2 separate regions of the Homo sapiens genome follow, and region 1 is linked to region 2. The links come from fine-mapping of genetic effects on gene expression. Tissue or cell type: spinal cord. Region 2 holds a variant in brackets; the other region holds the start of a gene. All regions are shown on one strand. Distances are from middle to middle.

Evidence for each region. PIP is the estimated chance that this variant, and not a neighbour inherited with it, causes the effect.
Region 1: GTPBP3 starts here. The variant in region 2 is fine-mapped to the expression of GTPBP3 in spinal cord (GTEx, PIP above 0.99).

Annotation. Positions count from the first base shown.
Region 1 is chr19:17,336,386-17,339,006 of GRCh38, reverse strand. GTPBP3 (GTP binding protein 3, mitochondrial) reads right to left here and starts at 1,454. Exons shown (of 9, transcript NM_032620.4): 1 at 1,343-1,454; 2 at 752-999; 3 at 556-642; 4 at 266-468; 5 at 1-53. The coding sequence starts at 1,395. RefSeq lists enhancers at 470-1,141, 1,142-1,813, 1,814-2,485.
Region 2 is chr19:16,841,478-16,844,232 of GRCh38, reverse strand. SIN3B (SIN3 transcription regulator family member B) reads right to left here. Exons shown (of 19, transcript NM_001297595.2): 4 at 2,265-2,465. Among named protein-coding and RNA genes, the nearest start is that of SIN3B, 13 kb to the right of the region's middle. The variant G/A (reference allele first, on the strand shown) is at 1,627.

The DNA of each region.
Region 1 (2,621 bases), 490 kb before region 2:
TCCAGGTTGTCATCCTCGCCGAAATCGATATAGGCCTCCACGTGGGCCAGAGCCTGGCGGGGCAGGGAGAGCAGAGGTGGTGTGTGCACCCAGAAACCCACCTTCCCACACCCAATTTGTCCAGCCCGACTTCAGGGGCCAGAATGGCGGCTCATAGGCCGGAAGCTTTCACGCAGGGAATGAATGCGGGATTGAGAGGGGGTCTCATGCAGGGGTTGCACAGATGGGGTCTCTGAGGGAGAGAATGGACAAATGGGGGACTTGCTTTGGTGAGGGTCTCGGCCCAGCCACGGCAGAGGTGGCCCAGCTCTCCGTCCAGCTGCCTGAGGGCCTGCCGCCGCTGCGCCTCTGTTTCCGCGTGGATAAGGTCCGCCAGCCCCTCCACTTCGGTCAGGTTCAGCTTCCCATTGGCGAACGCCCGTCTGGTGAACTCGCCTGCCTCCGCCGGTCGAAGCCCTGGCACGCTGCCTGCAGGAAGGTCCCAGTCTGACACCCCCTGGTCCCCACCCAGGCCCATTGGGAGGACCAAGCATCTCACCCAACGCTGCAACTCACCCAAGGCCTGCAGGACGCCGCTCACCACTGCCGGGCCTCCATGCACGTGGAACTCCACGCAGTCCTCACCGGTGAAACTCTGGGGACCTAATGTGACAGACAGGTGACAGGAGGACAGCACAGCCAGTGCAAACCCTTGGAAGGGGGAAACTGAGTCATGGGACCTACAGGAGGCTCGGAACCTGGGGACCCTCACCTGGGAACCAGAGCACCAGTGCGCGGTCCAGAGGCTCCCCGGAGCGGGGATCGCTGAGCAGGCGCAGGCTGGCGTGGCGAGCAAGGGGCAGGTCTCGGGGTGCTGTGAGAATTCGGAGGGCGTGGCCGCTGGCGGGGCCGCTGGTCCGGATCACTGCGATGCCGCAGCGGCCTTGGCCAGAGCTTAGCGCGAAGATGGTGGCGCCGGAGCCGGGGGCTGGTGCGCCGCTGCTCCGGCGCGTGCACAATCTGGAACCGGAGGGGAGGCGAATCAGCGCACCTGGGAGGCTCAGCCTCAGTGTCAAGTAGACCGAGGGCTCGATGATCGCGAGATGCTCCAGGTGGGGGGGTTCTGCGGCTGGGGGATGCACAAATTGGATGTTCTGAAGGCCGAAGGGTGACCGGATTAGGGACTGTGAGGCCAGAAGGAGACCCAGATATGGGCTCTGCCGCAAGGGTCATGAACGATTGAGGCACGGAAGAACGCGAATGATTGCTCTGCCGCAGGGAATTGGGCCCCTAAAACCCAGGGAGTGGGTCTGGGGTCCAAGCAGCACCCCAAGCTGTCGCACCCCTTCCCCTGTAGCCCCACCTGCGAGGCCCACGTGCCGCTTGGGCCGCCAGGGTCCAAAGCCCCCGCCACATGGATTTACAACCTGCGACCCGCCTGCCCGACCTGCCTGTGTGGCTTCAAGTCTGGGCAGGGGGCCCCGCCCACTCCGCGGCTTGACTAGTAAAGTGCTCAACTATTCTCGACCACCATTGGGTATCTTAGGATACGTCCTGCCCACCGTCTGAAGATACTCGCTTCCATTGGCTGGTGCAAGGGAGAGCGGGAGCGGGAGGCGGTATGGAGGTAGGTGTAGCGAAATGTTGTTCCCCGGGCAACATGAGACCAAATTTTTAGGGTCCTAGCGCAGCGAGGCTGACAATAGGAATAAGGAATGGAAGAAAGGACAGAGTTTGGCACAGGGCAGTGCAAATTACAGCGAGGGGAGGTTTTGAGTCCCGCATTTTCCATCTGCTCACTCCGCAGCCTTAGGCGTGGCAAGGACCTATGTGCGTTCAGTTTTCCCGTTCAAGAAAGGAGGGACTACACCTCTTTACGTTCAGGTTCAGACCGGAAACTCAGAGCATCTCGGTGACCGGGAGGGACGAGTACTGGAGAACCCACGCCCTGATCCAGGGAAAATCTTGCCCGAACTTCTGGAAAGAGTCCTACTTGCTTTTTCCGGAACTCTCCAGATTCTCTCCCCTCCCCAGCGTTCCCTTCTGCCGTTCCCTCGGCTTCGGATGCCCTTCCTCATTTGACAAACTCGTCTTCAAGGCCTAGCTCCAAGATCCCCTCCTCCAGGAAGTCTTCCTGGAACCCCCAGCACAGCCCTCTCTCCACTGTGGACTTCCTTGGCTCTCTGTCTCTCTGGTCCAGGTCTGCACCTGCAGAGCCAAGTGTCCGGTCAGTCTCTGGCTCCCCGAAAGCCAGAAAGGGGAGCCTCGGAGATTGCTTTCAGGTTAACCCAGGACAGCACTGAAACTCGGAATAAAGCGCTGATGGTGGAATTCCAGGCACTGGCTGGGCGGGGTCTCCGGGAGCGCCTTCGCATGGCGGATTCTCTGGTTCTGGATCAGAGCGGGCGGGCGGCGCACTTGCGTGTTAAGAAAAATCTGTCTGACAGAATAGAGTTCTAATACCCCCTTACCTCGCCCTGCTCAATATTTTTATTTACTTTATTATTTTATTTTATTTTATTTTTGAGACAGGGTCTCACTCTGTCGCCCAGGCTGGAGTGCAGTGGCGCGATCACGGCTCTTGCAACCTCCAACTTTTGGGCTCAAGGGATCCGCCCGCCTCAGCCTCCTGAGTAGCTGGA
Region 2 (2,755 bases):
TACACAACAGTTCAAACTTACATTTGAAAAAACTAGACAACCTGAGGCTGGAGTCACCAGGGGCCTTGTTTAAAATGCAGATGCCATCCAGCTGGGTATGGTGGCCCACGCCTGTAATCCCAGTACTTTGGGGGGCTGAGGTGGGTGGATCACTTGAGGCCAGGAGTTCCAAGACCCACCTGGGCAACATGGTGAAACCCCGTCTCCTCTTAGCCCTTAGCTGGGCGTCGGAGTGAGCGCCTGTAGTCCCAGTCACTCAGGAGGCTGAGGTGGGAGGATTGCTTGAGCCCAGAGAAGTAGAGGCTGCAGTGAGCTGTGATGATGCCGCTGCACTCCAGCCTGGGCAACAGTGAGACCCAGTCTCAAAAAAATAAAAACAAAAAAAGAAACTGTGCCGATGCCGGGCGGGCCCTGATGAATGGGAATCCTGCATGGTGGCCAGGTGTCTGCATTCTCAACCAACTCTCAGCAGCCCGGTTTGGGTTGGGGGATACTGCGTTGTCCCTTCCCATGGCACTCTCTCTGAAGGAGTCTGTGGCAACCCCTCATTGTGACCTTGTCTAAATTCATCTCTAGTGTCTTTAACCTGCCCCTTCCTTTGCCACAGAACAGAGCCACTGCACAGACTGCTCTGATGCGCCTTCCTAAATGTGATGACCCCACAAAGCCTGGGAGGGGCCCACAGATTCTACGATCACAAGCACATCCCTCCACACAGACCAGATGCTCACAGCAGCCACTGGCAACCACTCATCCATGACAAACAAGCGTTCTTAGGGCTGTACCAGCCTCTCACAGATGCTAAGGCCCATGATGATGCCAGCACGGTGGACAACAAATGCTGTGGAGTTCCCAGAACACAAATTCTATCCATTTGATCTGAAACGCTTATGCTGAAAAGAATCCCGCTTCTTGACTCGACATGTCAAGGCTGCAGGGATTTCATTTTAAAAAATGGGTTCTGCTAATTAGCTGGGCGTGGTGGCCCATGCCTGTAGTCCCAGCTGCTCAGGAGGCTGAGGCAGGAGAATTGTTTGAAGCCGGGAGGCTGAGGTTGCAGTGAGCTGAGATTGAGCCACTGCACTCCAGCCTGGGTGACAGCGCAAGATTCTGTTTCAAAAAAAAGAAAAAAAATGGGTTCTGCTGCTAAAAAAAATTCCAAGCGTTAGAGACTCCACGTCTGGGTGAAGAGGACGTCTAAGCCCCACTCACGACACAGATGTCCCTCGCCACCAGCCCACCTGCATTGCCCAAGTCCCCTGCAGACGCCCTGATGCCGCTGTCTGCTCTGGTCTCTGGACCTTTGCACAGGCCATTCCTGGCACCAAGAATGTCCACCCTTCCTCCAGGCTAACCTGCCTACTGGTTCCGACTGATATGTCAAGATTCAACCTGACTGTCCCCTCCCTGGCCCCGGACGGGTTGGGAACCGGGCTGGGAATCATATTAACCCTGACTCACCTCTCCTGCCCACATCCTTTCTTTTCCACCCCAATCCACCTCTGAGTTTCTTCCCACCACTGCAATGAACAGCTAAGCAGGAGCAGCCATTTGTCTCTGTAGCCCCAGCTCCTGGTGCTGGGCCCAGTTGTAATCAGCAAAGTAAAGGATGGCCGTATTGCCTAA[G/A]CAATAACAAAGTCATCTGATAAAAAGACTGTCTTGGCCAGGTGTGGTGACACACACCTGTACTCCCAGCTACTTGGAGGGCTGAGGCAGGAGGATCGCTTGAGCCCAGGAGGTCAAGGCTGCAGTGAGCTATTATTACACCACTGCACTCCAGCCTAGGTGACAGAGCAAGACCCTGTCTCAAAAAAAAAAAAAAAAAAAGGTGGCTGGGCACGGTGGCTCACACCTGTAATCCCAGCACTTTGGGAGGCTGAGGTGGATGGGTCGTTTGAGTTCAGGAGTTCAAGACCAGCCTGAGCAACATGGCAAAACCCTGTCTCTACAAAAATTACAAAAATTAGCTAGGTGTGGTGATGTGCGCCCATGTTCTAGCCCCAAGTAGCCTCCGCTACTTGGGAGGCTGAAGTTGGAGGATGGCTTGAGCCCAGGAGGTGGAGGTTGCAATGAGCCGAGTCCGTGCCACTGCACTCCAGCCTGGGTAACAGAGCCAGACTCTAAGAAAAAACAAACAAAAAACCCCACAACTAATTAGAATTTTACAGGATTTTATGAATTCCGACAAGAAAATCTGAATATCTGCAGGGCCCCAAACTGGATGAAATCCAAAACCCACAAGGAATTGTAATCTGAGTTCTTACCTGGTACGTGTGCAGGATCTCCAGGAATGACCTGTAGATTTCTGGGTGGTCTAGGAAGCGGGTTTTAATCTTATTCACATAGCTGATGGCGTTGTTGAATTCCACGGAATCGGACTCCAGGGGCACCTGGGGTTTGTCCTCTTTATACGGCACCTGCTGCTTGAAGTCCTCTGCACCGTCCCCGTGGTTGTGCGAATTCTCCTGACAAGGCGACAATGAGTTACTGCCAGGCCCGACACTGGAAACAGATTGTGAAAAACACCAGGCCCAGCCACTGTCTGCACAGGAACAGAAAAAACTCAGCACGGAGCCAAGCTGTATTAGAGACAGGGAAAGGTTACTTCTGAGAGCCTGGAGGCAAGCAGGGCGGGGTGCACAGGTGAGTCTTCCCAGCTCACCTCCACCCGATCCTTACCAATCTACTCAAGGAACACAACAAGTTCAACGAGCACCTTGCATTTGGAAAACTTCACATTCAGGAGAAATGTACA